Regions from separate parts of the Homo sapiens genome. Here all the other regions are linked to region 1. Evidence: fine-mapped expression QTL. A gene starts in region 1. Each other region holds a variant in brackets. All regions are shown on one strand. Distances are between the middles of the regions. Region 1 holds the start of CMPK1 (cytidine/uridine monophosphate kinase 1). Region 2 overlaps LINC01389 (long intergenic non-protein coding RNA 1389). Region 3 overlaps STIL (STIL centriolar assembly protein).

Evidence for each region. PIP is the estimated chance that this variant, and not a neighbour inherited with it, causes the effect. A credible set is the group of variants that fine-mapping cannot tell apart.
Region 2: its variant is the best candidate, but not a certain one, in a credible set for the expression of CMPK1 in monocytes after R848 (Quach 2016, PIP 0.52).
Region 3: its variant is the best candidate, but not a certain one, in a credible set for the expression of CMPK1 in whole blood (TOPMed, PIP 0.76).

Annotation. Positions count from the first base shown.
Region 1 is chr1:47,329,605-47,338,280 of GRCh38, forward strand. It overlaps CMPK1 (cytidine/uridine monophosphate kinase 1), which reads left to right and starts at 4,186. Exons shown (of 6, transcript NM_016308.3): 1 at 4,186-4,512. The coding sequence starts at 4,342. RefSeq lists a silencer at 4,099-4,738 and enhancers at 4,125-4,928, 4,929-5,732, 5,249-5,308.
Region 2 is chr1:47,421,047-47,429,722 of GRCh38, forward strand. All of the region lies in intron 1 of LINC01389 (long intergenic non-protein coding RNA 1389), which reads right to left. Among named protein-coding and RNA genes, the nearest start is that of FOXE3, 9.1 kb to the left of the region's middle. The variant T/C (reference allele first, on the strand shown) is at 4,769.
Region 3 is chr1:47,269,272-47,274,271 of GRCh38, forward strand. It overlaps STIL (STIL centriolar assembly protein), which reads right to left. Exons shown (of 17, transcript NM_001048166.1): 13 at 2,805-2,970; 14 at 364-595. Among named protein-coding and RNA genes, the nearest start is that of TAL1, 40 kb to the left of the region's middle. The variant A/C (reference allele first, on the strand shown) is at 2,542.

The sequences.
Region 1 (8,676 bases):
CACGCCTGTAATCCCAGCACTTTGGGAGGCTGAGGCGGGCGGATCACTTGAGGTCAGGAGTTTGAGACCAGCCTGGCCAACATGGTGAAACCCCATCTCTACTAAAAATACAAAAATTAGCCGGGCATGGTGGCGGGTGCCTGTAATCCCAGCTACCCAGGAGGCTGAGGCAGGAGAATCGCTTGAACCTGGGAGGCAGAGGTTGCAGTGAGCTGAGATGGTGCCACTGCACTCCAGCCCAGGCGACAGAGCAAGACTCCATCTCAACAACAACAACAACAAAAGGCAGGGCTTGGTGGCTTATGCCTGTGATCTCAGCACTTTGTGAGGCCGAGGCGGGCGGATGACCTGAGGTCGGGAGTTCGAGACCAGCCTGACCAACATGGAGAAACCCCGTCACTACTAAAAATACAAAAAAATTAGCCAGGCGTGGTGGTGCATGCCTGTAATCCCAGCTACTTGGGAGGCCGAGGCAGGAGAATCGCTTGAACCCGGGAGGCAGAGGTTGTGGTGAGCTGAGATTGTGCCATTGCACTCCAGCCTGGGCAACAAGAGTGAAACTCTGTCTCAAAAAAAAAGAATGTTTCTTGTTTTAAGTCATTGATTTGGGAATGGCTGTTTTGTAGCAATAGATAACTGGAACAGACTCAAAGGGCCAACTAGTCATAAAGTGTTTTTTTGCCTCACCTTGTCATTCCTGGAAATGACTCCCTGGAAAACCCTTCGCAGAGATGGGTGTCTGGGTTTCAGTTTTTAGAAATCTTTCCACATTAATATTTTCCTTAGTTGCCTAACATAACTGGCAGAAGGAGACAGGCAAGGAACAGGACATTAAGTACTCAACCAACTGTGGTCATAATTATCCAGAAAGTTTTTTTCTCTGTGAAAAAAAAATCACCACATATTGCTTTAAGTAGGTTTACTAGGAAGTTTCAGACCCAAACCCCTGTGTGGAATCCTTAGTTCTGGTGTTCTATCATGGAAACAACAAAGACTGTCTTTTTGTCTCTAGCCCAAGGCCTTCACTAAAAGTATGCCAATAGCTTCCTAGCCCTTTTTCTCACAGACACCATATCCTTAAGATCTTTTAACTCTAATTGTGTGAACAAAGGAAAAGAAGACACATTTGTTTTGATATGGCCTTTTTCATACTCCTGCTACCCATTCCCAATATGACCAATTGTCCTTGTTCTTGGCTGCCCATGTCCTAGCTCCTCCTCCCCAGAAGCTGAAGGGTTTGGAGCCTTCTTTTTTTTGAGACAGAGTCTTGCTCTGTCGCCAGGCTGGAGTGCAGTGGTGCGATCTCAGCTCACTGCAACCTCCACCTCCTGGGTTCAAGCAATTCTCCTGCCTCAGCCTCCCAAGTAGCTGGGATTACAGGCATGCACCACCACATCCAGCTAATTTTGTATTTTTAGTAGAACTGGGGTTTCACCGTGTTAGCCAAGCTGGTTTCCAACCTCAGGTGATCTGCCCACCTTGGCCTCGCAAAGTGCTGGGATTACATGCATGAGCCGCTGCGCCCGGCCGTGTTTTTTTATGTGAAAATTCACATATCTAAACGTGGGTCCCTGTTTTTGTATAGCCTTCAAGCTCAAAATAATGTTCACATTTTAAAATGGATTTTAAAAATAAAAATAAATAATATTTTGGGACACATGCAAATTATATAAATTCAAATTTCAGTATCCATAGAAAAATGTTTTGTTTTTGTTTTGAGACAGGGTCTGGCTCTGTTGCCCAGGTTAGAATGTAGTAGCACGATCTTGGCTCACTGGAGTTTGCACCTCCTAGGCTCAAGGGCTGCTCCCACCTCAGCCTCCACCTCCTGGGCTCAAGGGATCCTCCCACCTCAGCCTCCCATCTCAGCCTTCCGAGCATCTGGGACTACAGGTGCACACCACCACCTGTAGTGTAGTGTAGGCCTGGCTGGGCGCGGTGGCTCATGCCTGCAATCCCAGCACTTTGGGAGGCCAAGGCAGGAGGATCACTTGAGCCCAGGAGTTCAAGACCAGCCTGGACAACATGGTGAAACCCCCTCTCTACTAAAAATACAAAAATTAACCAGGGGTGGTGGCAGGTGCCTGTAATCCCAGCTACTTGGGAGGCTGAGGCAGAAGAATCGCTTGAACCTGGGAGGTGGAGGTTGCAGTGAGCCAAGATGGCACCACTGCATTCCAGCGTGGGTGACAGAGTGAGACTCTATCCCCCCCAAAAAAATTTTTTTCCAGCTGTGATAATAAAAAATATCCCATTCTCCTTTCTATGGTGGGAAGGAAAAGGTAGAAGTTGTGGAGAGGAAAGAGGTAGAAATTAAAGGGAGAATGGAAAAGAAGGGCAAACAAAGGCAAGTAGGTGAGGAGAAGGACAGGAAAAGAGACAGGGAGAAGGGAGGGACTTATAAATGGGAAAAGAAGGGTAGGAAGGATGGGAATAAGTAAAAACAACAACAACAAAAAGAAAGCAAGGAGAGAGAGTAGAGATGGGGAAGAGCCAGAAAATGCTGAGTGAGCTAAGAAAGGACCACCAAAAGAAAAAGGAGAATGGGGGTGGTCAGACAGAGGGCTATACCACTATCTTCCTCTCCTGTTTGCTTTCGTTTACTAACGTCCTGGTCACTCTGCCCTAAACAGCTTAGTTCCTTTCCCATAGTCTTTGTTCACTCCAGCACTATCTGACTTGAACTTGTACCTGTACGACAAATCTAACACCCTGGACTCTTAGTTCTAAAAACAGGACATGCATTCTGCCTCAGTCTTCCATTCCCATGGTCTCACCCTGGACCTTGGCATCATCAGAAACTCAGAAGCTGGGACATTTCAATTCCAAATATCCCACTCAGACCAGCAGCATCCATACTGCCAGAGCACTTGCTCATATACCCCACTGCAATCTTTCTTGGGCCAATGCTCTAAGACATTGGTCCCTTTCCCCACCACCCTCCAACCCCTCCACTACCAGGCTTCATGTGCCATTATTTGCTTTCCTGTATGGTTTTGATTCTACACACAGCATCATGAACATTCTCTTCCAAACACTCTCATCACTTGGCCCCCTCTCTCTGTTGTACTTGCCAGGCAAAATCCCAACCCTCAGTAAATGCAACAAGCTGCCTTCTCTGCCTGTGCCTGAATGGCCAAACATCTTCAATTATTTTGAATCCGTTACCTCAAATATCAAATGAGCTCTTAACGTTGGCCAGAAGGCCTTTTAAAGGCCTGTATGCACCAAGGCTCAGTTCTTGAACGTCTCCTTTTCTTCTCCCTTAAGATTCTTCCCTAATGAAGGGGGCAGGCGAACGGAGTTAAAGGGCTTCCATTGCTGTTAGAATACAGCCCAAATTCCTTTCCATAATCAAAAGTCCTGATCTGCCACCGACCTCACTTTCTCAACTTTTCACCTTCCATTCTCCCCTCATTTGACTCAGCCCTGGTCTCACTGTCACTGGCCTTTTTTCCTTTTTTTTTTTTGAAGCAGTCTCATTGTCACCTAGGCAGGAGTGCAGTGGTGCTATTACGGCTCCTAGGCTCAAGTGAACATCCCAGTAGCTGGGATCACAGGCACGGGTCACGGTGCCCGGCTTTTAAATTTTTGGTCGAGACGGGGTCTCGTCATGTTGTCCAGGCTGGTCTCGAACTCCTGGGCTCAAGCCATCCTCCTGCCTCAGCCTCCCAAAATGCTGGGATTACAGGCGTGAGCCACCGCGCCCAGCCAGGCCTTCCTTCAATTGCTTTAACATGCCAAACCAACTTAGATTTTTTGCACATGCTTTTCTCTGTGGGACACTCTATCCTGGTGTTTGCCTGGTTTCGCTCTTTTCTATCCTTTTGTCTTGGCTTGAATGTCACCTCTTCTGAAGCCTTCTCTGGCGACCCTGGCCATCTTATGTCCTACTTGTTATTTCTTCAAAATCGTACTGCCTTTTGTATGTACTGGTGTTTACTCATTCACACTGGCTACCTCCCCATACCTCACTGGCTGGAATGGAAACTCATTGCGAGCAGAGACAATAGGTTTTGCTCTCCCGCGGATCACGTCCCAGCCTCCAGCTCAGCACCAGACACTTGAGGGCGCAGGATAAAATATCTGCAGTCAGAAAGCACTAATAACCACCCAAGGGTTGGAGGAAAGCTGGCGCGGACCGCACGAGTGTCGCCGAGACGCCGCCGCCGTGCGAAGCTCCTCCCCTTCCGACAGGGCCGCGGACGCCCGGGCAGCCACGGCGGCGGGGCCGCGGCGGGCGCCGGCTCAGCCCGCCCCTTTCTCCCGCCGCCTCCCCGCCCCGCCCCGCGCCGCGCCGGCCGCTGTCAGCTCCCTCAGCGTCCGGCCGAGGCGCGGTGTATGCTGAGCCGCTGCCGCAGCGGGCTGCTCCACGTCCTGGGCCTTAGCTTCCTGCTGCAGACCCGCCGGCCGATTCTCCTCTGCTCTCCACGTCTCATGAAGCCGCTGGTCGTGTTCGTCCTCGGCGGCCCCGGCGCCGGCAAGGGGACCCAGTGCGCCCGCATCGTCGAGGTGAGGCCCGGGCAGCAGGCGGGCTCCTTGGGGCTTGACGGGATGCGGGCCGGCCTGTCCCGCCGCCCCTAGTCCGCGCCCCGCGGAGTCGCCGAGCCGCAGACTACGAGTCCCGGCGGCCACCGCGCCGCCCGCGTGGCAGTGGCCGAGGGCCGCCGGCGCGCGGCGTGCCGGGACTTGTAGTCCGCGCCCGCCCGCCTTGGGGGCCACCGCTTGAGGTCGCTTTGTTCCTGCGCCCCTTCTTTTCTTACATTTTGGGGACCAGATTCGTCTCTAGAGTGGGCTGGGAGAGGGATCCCGGAGGCCAACCTTTGGGGGTCCCCCAGCGCGCAGAGGTTAGCGTGTCGCTGATCGTGTGGCAGGTGAAGGCAGCAGGAGCGCGGATTTGGGTTAGAGGCCGTGTGCGCCCACAGTTGTCTGAAGGAGAGACCTATTTTTCTTCTCCGCGCCTTCCCTCTGGTTCCCTAAACTCCGCACTGTCACCGAACGTGTCTTTACTCTAGAAAGGAGGCCCGTGGGGCGGGGTGTTATTTTAGGCGTGCTGTGGGCTGCCGCTGGCACTCTCGAGCCCCGTCCCCGCAAGCTTTAGGGCGGAGCCAGCCCTGAGGCTCGGCCCGGGTCGGGGATGGGGAAAGCCGGGAGTGCTGTTCTGAGATCAAGCTTCAACCTTTGGCCCTGCTGCCAACTCACGCTCGGCCCTCGGTCACTTCCTGTCTCCCAGCCTCAGTTAGCCCTTGTAATACAGTAAAAAGAGTCTCTGAACCCAGATTTTCTCAGGATATAAAACACCTCCCAAATGTAAAATGCTGTTACTTTTTTTTCTTTTGCTTTGAGACAGGTTACCAGTTCAATTCTTTTAACAATTTTTGAGCTAGATGTATGGTTGGTTAGCTGCATTGACACTGTGGGAAAAAAAGGCTTCATGGACAATCTGGGGAATGCTTGGGAAAGAAGGAAAACAGGATATCTAGAAACAGAAGAGGCGACCATTGGTGGCCTCTAGTGAAATCACTCTGAAACCCTGTAACCAACAAAAGTTTTTTTGACCTAGAACTTATAATTTCCTCCTCTTCTAGGATATGGCCAATATTAGCATGGGGCTTTTGCTTCTCTCCTTATATGTTCATAACAATCAACTCCTGTCCTGTATTTTATTCCCTAAATAGCATCCAGAGAAAGTTAGATGAGTTCAACAAGTCATTATGTGTTGGACAGATGTATTTATAAATATTGATCATTTTGCCAGGCGCTGTGGCTCACTCCTGTAATCCCAGCACTTTGGGAGGCCGAGGCTGGCGGATCACGAGGTCAGGAGTTCGAGACCAGCCTGGCTAACATGGCGAAACGTTGTCTTTACTAAAAATACAAAAATTAGCCTGGCGTGGTGGCGGGCGCCTGTAATCCCAGCTACTCCGAAGGCTGAGGCAGGAGAATCGCTTGAAACCGGAAGGCGGAGGTTGCGGTGAGCCCATATCGCGCCACTGCACACTAGCCTGGGCGAAAGAGTGAAACTCCGTCTCAAAAAAAAAAAAAAAAAAAAAATCATTTTAGGTGTCAAAGTGGAACTAGTCCAACTAAAAAAATACATAACATTTACATCCTCTTAAAAAAATTTTTTTTTGTTGGTTCTCTTTCTTTTGTTGTTTTTTTGTTTTTGTTTTTGTTTTTGTGACAGTCTCACTCCGTCACCAGGCTGGAGTGCGGTGGTGCGATCTCAGCACACTGCAACCTCCGCCTCCCAGGTTCAAGCGATTTTCCTGCCTCAGCCTCTGCATAGCTGGGATTACAGGCGTGCGCCACCACGCCTGGCTAATTTTTGTATTTTTGGTAGAGACAGGGTTTCACCATGTTGGCCAGGCTGATCTCGAACTCTTGACCTCGTGATCTGCCCGCCTCAGCCTCCCAAAGTGCTGGGATTATAGGCATGAGCCACCGTGCCTGGCCTTGTCACTTGTCTTTTAAAAAGTAAAGAGACTGGCTGCTGCACTCCAGCCTGGGCGACAGAGCGAGACTCCGTCTCAGAAATAAATAAATAAATAAATAAATGGCAAGTGAAAAGTGGGAGTGATTTCAAATTTTTGTTTAGTATATGTGATCTTTCTTAAATAGCATGATGGGGGAAGGGGCAAAGACTTTAGAGTCAAAGAGATATAGGTTCAAACCCTGACTCTGCCATTTACTGTTTCTCTAGGCCCAGAGATGTTGTTGCCTTTAGTTCCCTGTGAAAAGGGAAAACATAGAAATGGCTGTTTTGTATGGTATTTGTGAATATTAAATGAGGTAAAATATCTGGCACACAGAGACAGATGCAGATAGTTTTTTTCTCCACTTTAAACTTCTGATCTTATTACCTCTACTTTAAACTTCCTGATCTTATTATATTGGTTATTTTTATTGGTGGGTTTTGTTGTTGTTGTTTGTTTTGAGATCGAGTCTCTCTGTGTCACCCAGGCTGGAGTGCTGTGGTACCATCTTGGCCCACTCCAACCTCTGCCTCCTGGGCTCAAGCCATCCTCTCACCTCAGTCTCCCAAGTAGCTGGGATGACAGGTGTGCACTGCCACTCTCTGCTAACTTTTTTTCAGGTTTTTGTAGAAACCAGGGCTCACTATATTGCCCAGGCTGGTCTCGAACTCCCAGACTCAAGGGATCTTACTGCCTTGGCTTCTCAAAGTGTTGGCATTACAGGCATGAGCCGCCATGCCTGGCCTGGTTATTTTTATTGCAAAATAGTATTTTTCTTTTAAATTACTTTATGCGTGTTATATTTGAATGCATTTAAATACAGTATGCTGTTTCTGAATCATAATATGCCTTTAAAATATCTGTACCTAAATTAATAATACCCATACTACTACACTGGTTAAAAAATAATCTACACATTCAGGGCTGGGCGCAGTAGCTCACGCCTGTAATCCCAGCAGTTTGGGAGGCCCAGGCGGGTGGATCACGAGGTCAGGAGATTGAGACCATCCTGGCTAACAAGGTGAAACCCCATCTCTACTAAAAATACAAAAATTAGCCGGGCGTGGTGGCAGGCGCCTGTAGTCCCAGCTACTTGGGAGGCTGAGGCAGGAGAATGGCATGAACCGGGGAGGCGGAGCTTGCAGTGAGCCAAGATCACGCCACTGCAGTGCAGCCTGGGTGACATAGCGAGATTCCATCTCAAAAAAATAAAATAAATAAATAAATAAATACATAAATGAAATAATCTACACATTCTGCAATTATTCTTTATTCTGTTCAGTAATGGCAAATAATATTTTAAACTTGTTAATTATCAGTTACAAGATTCCATGATGAGATATGTTCTGTAATGTATTATATTATTAAGATTTCAACAATTATTTGACCTTAAACTGTTATCTTCTTTAATGAAAAGTATTCTCTTGAGTCTAGTTGCCATAAACTTTATTAAGCTGTCAATCAACTAATTCCAAATAGTTTATAATTTAGCAATTGCTATTCCCTAGCTGGCTAGACAGACACTGGAATATCTATTTTTTTTTTTTTTTTGAGACGAAGTGTCACGCTGTCGGCCAGGCTGGTGTGCAGTGGGGCAATCTTGGCTCGCTGCAGCCTCCATCTTCTGGATTCAAGCGATTCTCTGCCTCAGCCTCCCGAGTAGCTTGGACTACAGGTGCGCGCCACCATGCCCGGCTAATTTTTGTATTTTTAGTAGAGACGGGGTTTCACTATGTTGGCCAGGCTGGTCTCGAACTCCTGACCTCGTGATCCACCCACCTTGGCCTCCCAAAGTGCTGGGATTACAGGTGTGAGCCACTGTGCCCGGCCTGGAATATCTATTGTTAGTGAAGTCAGCGGTATGTTGTTTTTTTCCTTTGTGAATCTCTTTATTTTGACTCAATATTTTTTTATACAGGCAATTATAAACTAAATTCCAAAATAATGTAAGTTTTGGAGGTTTTTTTCCTGTAGGAAAAAAATTACATAAATCCACGGTAAATTCTCCAATTAATCTGGCTGAAGCTAATGCAGCTCACAGGGCACCTGAAATTGTTACTTTAGTATGTTGATTTCCAACTCAGGCTGCCAGAAGTACATATTTGAGTCCTAGCTACAGAATCTTCAGTTGACAGGAAGAGAAGAAAAAGAGAAAACCAAAAACCCTTAGGGATATCTTGCTCTCTAAGGCACTGAAATT
Region 2 (8,676 bases), 91 kb after region 1:
ACCTTCTGCTCATCTGGACTGATGGTGCTCCAGGTCGGCTGAACAGAGCTGGATCTGGAAATTCCCTTCACCATTACCTTGGTAATTCTGTGTCCTGTTTTGGATCTTCTACTTCCTGATATCCCTATCTTCCCTTTTTTCTTAGTTTATTCCCTTTTTTCAGTCGAGGTAAAATTTTTTGGAAACTTTGCACATCTGAAATTGTTTTAGCATGAGAAGCTAAGCAGGCATTTGACAATGAAATATTTGCGTCAATGCTATGCTTCTCTGTAGACCTTTTTTTTTGGAGGGAATCAGAGAATGGGAGATATTTTCTCAGCTTAGTATGCTTTACCTGTAGGGAAGCAGGGAAGGTGGTGGAGTATTATGGAAATGAGGGGTTAAGAGTTTTGGCAGGAGGACAGGGCAGGAGAACTCTGGAGATTTCCTTACAGGAGAAGGAAACCTGAGAGGAGAAGCCCTGAGAGGGGTGACTTCCTGACTTAGAGGGAATTGGAACACAGGGAGGGTAGCTTTGGGCCCAGGATGGTGCTGAGCTGGTTTGAGGGCCTCCTGGATCCATTTAAGAAGGAAGCCAACATTACCCTGGCACATGGAAAATTGAGTACATAGGAAAGTGACACCCTTGGCAGTGACACTGGCAAACATGGTAACAGAGAGGCTCCTTCAAGAGAGCCCTCCACTGTAGTGACTGGATTGGTTTTGAGCCCAAGTGTATTACCTCTCTGGGAGATCCTAGAAGTATGGGGGTGAGGGGATTTTGCACGATACAGGTTATTGTGGTTTACTTTTAAAGGGAAAGAATTCTGTGGACTTCCAGTACTGACTTTAATTTTTTTATTATAATGTCAGTATTTGCAGGTATAAATTCTTTAGACTTGTATTTCTTATGTGATTGTTAAAATTGTTTATAAATTAAATTCAAACAATGAAATAAAAATTCAAGTGCATAACATTAGTCAAATGTAAAAGAATATATTGTGGCTGGGCGCGGTAGCTGACGCCTGTAATCCCCAGCACTTTGGGAGGCTGAGGTGGGCGCATCATGAGGTCAGGAGATCGAGACCATCCTGGCTAACATGGTGAAACCCCATCTCTACTAAAAATACAAAAAATTAGCCAGGCGTGGTGGCACCTGCCTGTAGTCCTAGCTACTCGGGAGGCTGAGGCGGAGGAATCGCTTGAACCCAGGAGGCGAAGGTTGCAGTGAGCCTAGATCATGCCACTGCCCTCCAGCCTGGCGACAGAGTGAGACTCCATCTACAAAACAAAACAAAACTAAACAAAAACTATATATATATATATATATAGTTTTGCTGAGACTACATCACTTGCTCCGTGAATGTGGCTCTGACTTCTCCATAGCAGGTTTTCTGGGTTTGTCATTCCTCGGGCCATGTGATGACTAAAGTCACCATTTTTAATTTTATTGATTGATTGATTAACACAGGGTCTCACTCTGTCACCCAGGGTGGAGTGCAGTGGTGCAGTCATACCACACTGCAGCCTTGACCTCCTGGGTTCAATCGATCCTCCCGCCTCAGCCTCTCGAGTAGCTGAGACTACAGGCTTGCACCACCATGCCTGGCTAACACCATTTTTTCCTTTTGAATGAACTGCAGGCATTCCTTCATGTAGCAGGCCATGATACCAATGGGCCCAAATACAGCATATATGTATAAAATCTACATTGTTTTTTTGCCTCATCTCAAGATTAAAGTAGCATTACCTGATAATAAATGGAAATAAAGACTTCAAGTATTAGGTATCTCTTACAAGGAAGTCATCTAAGTGATCCAGAATATGCTTATATGAATGTGCTTATTATAGCGAAAAAAACCAACATTCAAAAAGTTTTATAAATTCCCACATGAATAAGAATATATTCTTGGGCCAGGTGCGGTGGCTCACACCTGTAATCCCAGCACTTTGGCCGAGGCGGGCGGATCACCTGAGGTCAGGAGTTCAAGACCAGCCTAACCAACATGGAGAAACCCCATCTCAACTAAAAATACGAATTAGCCGGGCATAGTGGTGCATGCCTGTAATCCCAGCTACTCGGGAGCTTGAGGCAGGAGAATCGCTTGAACCCAGGAGGCGGAGGTTGCGGTGAGCCAAGATTGCACCATTGCACTCCAGTCTGGGCAGCAAGAATAAAATTCTGTCTCAAAAAAAAAAAAAAAGTATATATTCTTGGACCATACTTCAAACTAAGCAATTAAACATTTTAAAACATTTATCTAAATAAATAACTCTTTGGTTAGAAGAAAGTTGTCATTACAGACTATTTATAAATTAATAAAGGTAAGAACAGTACATATTAAAATCTAAAGAATGTAGTCAAACTTGTGCTCAGAGGAAATTTCATAGCCCTAAATATGTCACGGACACAGAGTTAGAGGGGCCCTGGGGTGGGGTAGGGAGACCAGTTACAAGGCTACTGCAGCATCCAGGCAGGAAAGGGTGGTGGTTTGGTAGAGGTGGAGGTGCAAGTGGAAAAAAGTAGATATGCAAAGCTATATAGAAAGAATCAGCCATTGGCTAACATCATCCTAATCTACCATCCTAATCTACCAAGGCCAAACGCTTTCCCATTTAATCATAGCCTCAGGCCAACCCTGAAAGCTTGGAGTGGTCATTTTGCTGGTAGTCACCGCTGATCTGGCTTGCCTAATTTAAAGAGTAACTAATTTCAATATACCTATTAGCCCAGAAGGAACAGACAACATTGTCAGAGATGGTTCCTCCACTGCTCCCACCAGAGGGCACCTAGGTTAGCTGTTTTTTTCCTGTGAATTCTGTCAAACCATTGAGGAACCTATTTCTCTAGTTACATAAATTGCTCCAGAACACAGAAAAAATGGAAGTCATCCCAATTCTACGGACTATGTTATCTAATTATGTTATCAAAACCTGATAAAGGAATACACAAAATATAGCCTAATCTCACATATGAAAGATGATGCAAAACTTGTCAGCAATATATCAGCAAATTAAACTTAGTAATGTATTACAAAAAAAATATGCAATCGTGCAGTTTATTCCTGGAATGCAAAGATGGCATTCTTAGAATTATTTGCTCCCCATTGTAGGAACTGTGCATCATCACCTTTATAGATGATGAAAATCAGGCTCAGAAAGGTTAAGTGACTTACCCAGGTCAAGCTGCAAAGTGACTGACCCAGGACTTGCTTCCAGGTCTGCCTGGCTTCAAAGTCATTCTCCTTTCTCTCAGGAAGAAACAAGTGGAGGTGGAAACTTGGATGAAAAGCCCCAGGCACCAATAAAATTATTCAGTTCACCCTAATATCCTCCTCCCCTACACCCGCACCCACTGTCCCGATCTTGAAAAGAGCCTTTCCAGCCGTGATGACAGGTCTTTGGTTTCCTCTTTTTTTGTCTGTCTTCCACTCCCCACACCCTTTTCACACCCGAATACTCCTCTCTCCCCTTTCCCTCTTTCTAATCTCCTTTCTCCCATCAATTTTTGGAGATAAAAGCGCCACCTATTGGCCACCTCGTGTGCACCTGATTTGAGCAGGAAATCACTGGAATGAAGTCAGGATCCATTTGGATGCTATTTTGGGCTGGCAGGAGCCCCTGGTGGCTGAAAGGCACTTGCTCCAGCAGGGAAACCAATTGTTTGGTGCAGAAGAGGAAAACTAGCTGCAGTTCCCACCTCCTCTAGAAAACCCTCCCAGATCTTTCACCCTCCCCACTTCCTCTTGACAGGCTTTGGTAGTTGCTCCACTGCAAATGGAATTGGAATGGGTGTGAGGTTGGTGGCCCTAGGTGCAGACAATTTATCTACTCTGTAAGAGGGAGACAGAGGAAAGGGGGCTGGGCTGGAGGCAGAAAACCTGGGGTCTAGTCTCAGGTCAAACACTTAGGCAAGTCCTTTACTTTCTCTGCACTTCATAGCAATTACTGCCTCTCCCCAAGTCCCTTGATTGTGCCAGGTCCTGTGCTCTTTCCCAGCTGAGGACTCAGAGATGTATCAGACACTGTCCCCGCTCAGAGAGCTCAAATATTGGCAGATGACAATATAGTATGTAGAATGCTTTATGAGATGAGGGGTTGCTAGGTCTCCTTGGTCACTCACCAATTCCAGCCTCTATCCTGACTCAGCCTCAGTCTACCTCGAAATAGAGAATGTGCCCGATCCTCTCTGTCTGGGTAGGGATGGCCTTTGTGACTGCTAAAGCATTGTGATGATGGGTGAGGATTTTCTACCCTGCCTGACTGGGGCTTCCCAGACAGCGCCTGTGTCTTCTCTGTTCCACTATGTCCCTCACTGGGCAGCCTGGCCAGAGCTGGGCATACTGCAGCTTTGGTTTGAACTGCCCTTATCTGGAGGCTGGACTTGGGGTTTAGGGAGTTGATGAGACTTAGAGACAAGAGGCCTGGACCCTGCTTGAGGGAGACACAGGTCCCACCCTGGGCATCAGTCTGTCTCCCTTGAGTTATGAAGGGGCTGGGGTTTTGTGAGCTTCACAAAGGAATGCTTCCTGAAGGTGGTGGGTTGGAGTTCTGAAAGGAGGGAGGGGAGGGCCTGCTGCTCCTGTTCCTGTGAAATCCCTTCTTCCTCTATCCATCCTAACCCCTGTCCAGCTGGCAGACTTTCAAAGTAATTTAGATGGGACGAACAGAGGGAGGGAGCCAAAGACAGAGGGATGGGAACAGAACAGGAAGGAGGAAAGGCAGAAAATCTGGGGTCCTAGCTAGCAGACTCAACTGCTTCCCTGTCTGATGGGCAGGCAGATGATAC[T/C]CACAGGCACCTCACATGTCTGGCTTCACGTCCCTTGCTTTCAACATTCATAGCCACCAACCATATTTTCAAGTTGGAGCCCATAAAAAGTGTTCAGCTCATAGTAATGGTTTTTATTCTTATGTTCTGCACACTCAGTCTTAGTTATTGAAATAATCCAACTGTTTCTTTTAAAGTTTTTAATTGTTGAATAAGTAATACATTCACTTCACTTTACAAATATAAAAAAGTCATCCATGAAGTCTCCCATTTGTTTCCAATTTGCCCTAGTGTATAATCAGTTACTAGATTTTTATTCATCCTTCTAGATATTTTTGTTTCATACGTAAACCAATACAAGTATACATTATTTTCTCCTTGAAAAACACAATTGGATGCATGTTTACACTGTTCTATATATCTTGAAATTTTTTTTTCACTCAACAATGTATCTTGGCTGGGTGCAGTGGCTCATGCATGCAATCCCAGCACTTTGGGAGGCCAAGGTGGGTGGATCACTTGAGGTCAGGAGTTCGAAACCAGACTGGCCAACATGGTGAAACCCTGTCTCTGCAAAAAATACAAAATTAGCCAGGTGTGGTGGCACTTGCCTGTAATCCCATTACTCGGGAGGCTGAGGCAGAAGAATCGCTTGAACCCGGGAGGTGGAGGTTGTAGTGAGCCAAGATCACATCACTGCACTCCATCCTGGGAGACAGAGCGAGACTCCGTCTCAAAAACAAAAACAAACAACAAACAAACAACGTATCTTGGTGCTTTCTCCAGCTGAGTACATAAAGAACTTCTATATTCTACTTTTACAGTATACTGGTCCCTTTTTCAGATGTTTCATTATTTGCTTAACCTGTCCTTGATAGACATTTATGTTGTTTCCAACCTTTTGACATTCCGAACAGCACCACAATGTGACTTTGTACATATGTCATACCATATGTGTGCAGGTATACCAGCAGGAGAAATCCCTGGAAGTGGATTTCCATGCAGCCTTTGTCAAGGCACTACGTCCCCTGTGTGGTCACACTGGCTCCTTTCAACAGCAGTCCTCTTTTATTTCTCAAAGGGACCCTTGATGACCACAGTCAGATTTTCACCTTCTCAAACCCGACTGCCTTCTTCTCCAGGGCCTTTCCATCAGTCTGCCACCAGTCCCTTCACAAGGTATCCTGGCCTCTGGATTTGGGAAGCATGGGTACTTGCCATGCCCACCCTGGGGTGTGCTGTGCCGTGGCTGTCAATCCATTCAGGGTGGTGGCTCCTTTTCCTTTTTAGCCCCCAAATCCTGGGCATCCATGGCAGGTATAGGGAACCAGCTTTTTGGACCTCCACCATTCAGGCCTCCAGGCTTCCTGCCAAATGGTGCTGTCTCCCCATCTGGGTCCCCAGTTGTGACTCCTTTCTTCTGACCATAGGATAATGCTGTAAGATCTGCTCCACTACTGTTTCAGATTTCCCATTTCATTGCCTCTAGTCCCCCAGATATGAGTGGCCCCAACTTTGAAGGAAGGTGTGGATGAGGAAAGATCACACAGAGCCCCTGTGAGAGGTGTTCATGTAACTAATGGGGAGTCAAATTTCAAGGCTGGAAATGAGGCCCTTGGCAGACTGGGAACCTCTGGGTTGCCCAGGCCTGTGATGTCAGCTCATGTAGCAGTTGTCACCATTTTGGGCTGACCTAGGCAGAGGATGAGGAGTAGCCTGTTCCAGCAGACCTTGAGGGGGCTGGGCAGGGCAAGGCCAGGCAGTAACATGATGATTATTGTTGTGATAGGTATGGCACAGTAGTTAAGAGCCCTGATTCTAGACCCAGATTGTCTGTGATGGAGATACACTTCTCATATGTTGGATGAGGAAACTGAGGCCTTGGAAGAGGCGGGGGCATGCTTGAGGTCACATAGGAAGTCAGGGAGAAGACAGAGAGTAGGGCCCAGGCCTCTTGGCTCAGGCCCCACTGTTCCTCTGCAGTTGCAGGAACAAACCAGTGGGTAATGCATTTTCATGGCAGGATGGAGGTGTCCCTGAACATGTCAAGGTTGGAGAGGAGGGCAAGGCACCTCACTGAGACATCCTGATCCATGACGGGCTCCAGCTAGAGCACTAGGTCTCAGGAGTCCCCATGAGGTAGCAGGATAAGAAATTTCCCTAGTCCGTTTCCAACCCAGCTATCTGGATGCTTTACAAATGAGGAAATGCAGGCTTACAGAGATTATTTGTCTGAGACTAATAAGTGGTAAGAGCGTAATTTGAACCCAGCTCTAAGACCTGAACTCTTCTTGCTACACCTGGGTGCCTCTATGATTCATACTCAGTGATTACCCAGCCTCCACTCTAGCACTTCCAGTGACAAGGAACTCAGAGCCACCGAGGTAATCTACTACATCTCAGAGACAGCCCTGTTAGAATGTTCTCCTTGCATGGAGACACAGAAAGTGAGGCTTTTTACCCCTTTCTGGCTCTCTTTTGCCTTGGTGTCTCTGCCCCAGATGAGCCCTGTGGAGATTGGGAGATGCTGGCTGTGTTAAGCCTTTATTCTCCAGGCTAATTACCTCAGACCTTTCTTTCGTGTTTATAGGACATTTTCTCAAACTTTCGTGCATTAAGCAGGGTTAGGTTCAGTTGTGAATGACAGACTGGCCCCCCCAATCCCACATCAGTGGTCTAAACAAGACCAAAGTTTATTTCTCTTTTACATAACAGTCAGTGCAGGCAGTTCAGGGTGGTATGGCAGTTCAGTGGTCTCAGAGACCCAGGATTCTTCTCTTTTGTGGCTAGGCTATTTGTGAAATTCAACTCAACTAGCAGAAATCCACCTCAACCTAGCTTAGCAAAAGGGGAGATTTCTTTCTTTTTGAATGTCTGGAAAGTCTAGGGGTTCCAGTTTCAGGCAGAGCTGGATCCAGGGACTCAAACACTATTTTTAAGTCTCTTTCTCTCTTTAGGCTGTTTTCCTCTGTGTGTGGGCTTTGATGTCAAACAGCACTCTCCATGTGGCAGGGAGATGGCTTCTGACAGCTAAGCCTGTGTGCTTGTCTTCTGATCCAAAAGGAGAGGTGCTCCTCCCAGAGTCCCAGAGTGCCAGTCCCATGGTCTACATAGTCCCAAATCTCAGAGTCCATATGTCAAATCATGTAGAAGGGGTGACTGGCTACTTAGGTCACTTACCACTGCCTGGACCAATCACTGGGCCTTGAACTTGCAATGGTATGTATGACCCAGTTGGTTGCCTGTCTGCTCCTGGGGAGTAATTGTGAGGGGAACAAATTGGATAGCCCCGTCAGGACCACATGGAACACAGGAGGGAAGGTTTCCTTCAACAGAGGGCCGAGACATGCAAAAACTGTAAGCATGTTCAGCTCATCATGCCAGGGAAACTGCATTTTGTCTTACAAGCAATGTGGAGCCCCTGGAAGACTTTGGCAGGGCTCAGTCTGGAAGCTGGTTTGATTTGTCACAACCATTTTAAAAGGAGGAAACTGAGGCAGAGAGAACAACAGACAAATCCAATGACTGCTACAGCCAGAAACCACGGATAAACTCTGTCTGAGAGGGAGACATGTTCTCCTCCCCTCAAAGATGGGGACTGATGGGAGAGAAGCAACCTCTGTTCTTAGTGAACACGTAGTTCTATTGATGATCTGAGCTACAACCTCTGTTCCCAGTGAATACAGAATTCCATTGATGATTTACTGATGAACTCCCTAGAGTTCTATAGGGAGTCCCAGAGAGAGAGATATGCCATACCTTCCTTTCTTCCTTCCTCTTTTCTTTCATTAATATATCCACATATCTAACATTAATTGAGCACCTACTGTGTGTCAGGCTTTGTGCCTGGCAGGAGGTAGAGTGATTAATAATGATGATGCAAAACATTTATTGAGGTTTTTTTTTGGTTTGTTTTTGTTTTGTTTTTT
Region 3 (5,000 bases), 62 kb before region 1:
ACATAGAAATCATATCAAGTAAAGACATAAAAGAAAATACCAGTTAGAAAATATATCATTTCTGAGTTAGAAGACTTTAAAGAAATTAGAATTAAAAACAAAAAAAAACCTGAACAGAACAGCAACTGTAATGAATAATAATACATTGTATATTTCAAAATTGCTAATAGTAGACTTCAAATGTTTTTACCACAGAAAAAGTTAAGTATGTGAAGTGATAGATTTGTTGGTCTGATTTAATCATTCCATACTGTAAACATGCATCTAAACATTGTGCCCCACAAATATATACAATTATTATTTGTCTATCAAAAAAAATTTTTTTTGAAAGTAGGATGAAAGACTAAATCAAAGAGACCTTACTTGGATACAGAAAGTGGCTGGTTAAATTCTTCTTCCACAGCAATGTTGCTCTCTTCAAAACTGGGAATATCAACTGCTTTTAATGAAGATGCACTACCTGGAAGACTTGTGACTTCATTATTAATATCGACAGAAAAATTCATGTCCTCACTGGAAATTTTGGTATCATCTTGCTTCATTTGAGAGTCAGGCTCTTGATCCTCACCTGCTGCATTCCAAAACAAGCTAGCACCTGGAGGTTAAATAATTTAAGATACTGAAACAAACATTCAACTTTAAAAATAATACTCTGCCAAACCTTTGTTAAGAATAGCCATATTGGCTGGGTGCAATGGCTCACGCCTATAATCCCAACACTTTGAGAGGCAGAGGCGGGAGGATCACTTGAGCTCAGGAGTTCGAGACCAGCCTGGGCAACATGGAGAAATCCTGTCTCTACAAAAAAAATACAAAAAAATTAGCCAGGTGTGGTGGTGTGCCTGTAGTCCCATCTACTCAGGAGGCAGAGGTGTAAGATCACTTGAGCCCAGGAGGTCGATGCTGCAATGAGCTGTGATTGTGCTACTGCATTCCAGCCTGGGCAACTCTGGCTCAAAAAAAAAAAAAAATATATATATATATACACACACACACACACACACACACACACACACACACACAATTACTTAGAACTAAGTTTTTAGATTATATTTCCTCAGAAATGCCAGGAAGAGGTAGGTGGAAGACAGAAAGACAAAACACTAGGGGACGGGTCGGGTGGAAGGGCACATTCTGGGTTCTGCTTTTTCAAGAAGGGTGGCTCTGAAATGATTTGCTTTACATATTAAGATTCTGAATATGATCCGTGGGATGGGGTGTGTATGTTGAAAACTGCTGCTCTGAATAATATGAGATAATATATAAAATACAAATCCCTAGGTTCTCTGGTTTTGACACTTAAATGCAATATTTAAAAGACTACATTGGTGATGCATCAGACATCTGTAATATCTGTAATATCAGGCAGGTATTAAAAAAAATCAAGTGTTTCCCAATCTTTTTTTTTTTTTTTTTTTTTTTTTAAGACAGGGTGTCACTTTGTTGCTCAGGCTGGAGTGCAGTGACACAATCACAGCTCACTGCAGCCTCAACGTCCCTGGGCTCAGGTGATCCTCCCACCTCAGCTTCCCGAGTAGCTGGGACTGCAGGTGTGCGCCACCATATGTGGCTAATTTTTGTATTTTTTTTAAAGATGGGGCTTCATCATTTTGACCAGGCTGGTCTCGAACTCCTAGCATCAGGCAATCCACCTGCCTTGACCTCCCAAAGTGCAAACATTATAGGCATGAGCCACTGCGCCCAGCCAATTTCTCAATCTTTATGAAGCACTTACACCTATCTTCAGAGCTATTTGCATGTAATATTGTTTACTTACTCTTTCTTTAAATTAACTCTTTTTTTACTGAGCCTCATTATTTCTCTAAAATCACAGATTTGATATGCTTATTGTATTTATACCTATGAGTATTGGAAAAGATATATTTACAAAATATAAATATTAATCTGTATAACACCCTAAATCATCTTTTGTACCACGAGCCATAGGCATTCTATAATTTGGGGAATATTGCTAATACATAATGGTTTAAACAGATGGTTAAAACCAAAAAGTAGCCTGGGCACAGTGGCTCATGCCTGTAATACAATCCCAGCCCTTTGGGAGGCTGAGGTGGGTGGATCATGCGGTCAGGAGTTGGAGACCAGCCTGACCAACATAGTGAAACCCCATCTCTACTAAAAATACAAAAATTAGCCAGGTGTGGTGGCAGGCGCTTGTAGTCCCAGCTACTCAGGAAAATCACTTGAACCCAGGAGGCGGAGGTTGCAGTGAGCCGAGACTATGCCATTGCACTCCAGCCTGTGTGACGGAGTGAGACTCCGTCTCAAAAAAAAAAAAAAAAAAAAGTAAATCATAGTCAAAATGGTTTCTACTCTGAGGATATACTTGGGTGATTTTATGAAAATAAATTAATACAAACAAGACTGGCTGGACGCGGTGGCTCACGCCTGTAATCCCAACACTTTGGGAGGCTGAGACAGGAGGATTGCTTGAACCTAGGATGGTGGAGGTTGCAGTGAGCTGAGAGTGCACCACACTGCACTCTAGCTTGGGCAACACAGCGAGACTCCATTTCAAAA[A/C]AAAAAACAAAAAACAAAAAAAAAACCAGAATTGGGTCCAGCCTAGAAAAGTAGCAAAATCAAACACTTTATCATGTTATGCAGTTTGCAGGTGTAGTTTTATTTCACAAAGACTAAAATCACACAAAAACTTAAGTCATACTCTCATCACCTTGGTTTTGGTCCTACTGCACCATGCACCAATTTGAACATAAAATTCAAAAACCAGATATGAAAAGCATTTTTAACAATTTCCTTACAAATTAAAAAAAAACTGAAATTACCTGTGCTCACAGCAATGCTTACACCTTTTCTCATGTGCAAGCCAGGGGAAGACTGTGCTTCCACAGAAACCAACTCCATTTGTCTTCCAGCTTGCACTGTGTCTTCAACAGCAGTTGTCTTAGGGGAACAGGGCATCAGAGACTGTGCTTCCAACAAACGCTGAATCTGTATCAATTAAAAACATACTTTAAACTGACAGGGAAGTAATCAACAAAACTGGCAGCAGTTTAATAATGAATTACAAAGCGCCCTAATTATAAGAAACTGACTTTTAAGTCTATTTTCTCAAATTTCAACTAGACCATACCATGAAACTTATTCAATATAGAAAGCCATTATCACTAGTTATTAAGAAGCACTTTAAGTATACTATTTTTTTTTTTTTTTGAGACAAGGTCTTGCTCTGTCACCCAGGCTGTCACCCAGCCGTGGTGCAATCATGGCTTATTGCAGCCTCAACCTCCTGGGCTCAATCGATCCTCCCACCTCAGCCTCCTGGGGTGGCTGGGATGACAGCCATGCACCACCATGCCTGGTTAATTTTCACATGTTTTGTAGAGATGGGGTTTTGCCATGTTGCCCAGGCTGTTCTCAAACTCCTGGGCTCAAGCAATCTGCCCACCTCAGCCTTTAAGTATACATTTAAAAGCAATACATAAAGGTGTTTAGCTTAGTATTCGTAAGTTGATACTCATGTAAAAAAGTGTGAATGGTTAATACTTCAAACTAACATTATATTCCTATTTCACTTATAAATCAAAAGTTAGATTGGAGGTATACTCTGACTCTCTGACTCCATATACCAAATACTGAACATATCACACAAGATTATTATAAAGGTAAATCAGAATTGCCCATGTTTGCCCATGTTGAAATTGGATATATTAATAACAATGGCTAACAGTTACTGAGCGCCTGTTGTTTGCAAGACCCTATTACTATAGGCTTTTATGTATAATTTTTACAGCAATCCTCTGAAGACTATATTACAATTAAACATTTTTTTTACAAGTAAGAAAACCTGCGGCAAGGAAAAAGTTAAGTTACTTGTATAGGACATATAACTAACAAGTAGCAAATCTGAAAGCTGAGGTTCAAACACCAAAAGCCTCCCCTCTTCCATTTTAAATTGAGATATAATTCATGTACCATGAAATTAGCTGCTTTAAAGTGTACAATTCAGTGGTTTTTGGTATACTCACAAAGTGTGCAATAATCACCACTATCTGATTCCAGAACATTTTCATCAAACCCCCAAAACTCTGTACCCATTAGCAGCCACACCCTATTGCCCTTCTCCGGAGCCCCTGACGGTCTAACATGATTTCTATCTCTGAATTTGCCTATTCTGGACATTTCATATAAACAGTACCATACTGTGGCCTTGTATCTGGCTTCTTTCACTTGGCATAATGTTTTGAAGGTTCAACCATGTTGCAGCATTTACTAATACTTTATTGCTTCTGATTGCTGAATAACATTCCCTTGTATGGATATATCACATTGTGCTTTTCCACTCATCAGCTGACAGACATTTAGGTTGTTTTCACTTTGGGCTATTAGGAATAATGCTACTTGGACATTTACATACAGCTTTTTGTGTGGACATATTTTTTTCACTTCTCTTGGGTATGTAACTAGGAGTGGAAGAGCCTCCCTTTGTAAACACTATGATTTTCTGCTTCTCTACAAATGGTACTACTGTGCTCAATATAATTTTAGTGGATTAACCTTATTAATATAGGAAAATAAGTATCATCAATCAATTATTAAGGTCAGTAGAAATATAAACTGCGCTAATAGTATAAAATGGCATGTGTATTTATAGTGGTTTGGAGTACAGCTTTGGTATCATGTGGCTATAAGTTTAAATCCTACCCTGCTACCTTTTGGAAAAGTTACTTAACCACTATGAGCTTCAATATCACCTAAAACTAAGGTTGTTAAAAGAGATAAATAAAACAGTTGTAATTTGTTGCGTACTTCCTCTAGCCAGGTCCCATACTAAGTAAGCACTTTACACACACACACACACTCATTTAATCTTTAAATCTACATATAATACTGATCATTTCTCCCATTTTATAGGTGAGAAAAGTGAAGTGTAGAGAAATCACATAGGAAATGTACAGTAAAAGACATTACACACACTCAGGTCCTAAAATTGATCACTCAGTGTTTTTAAAACATTAATC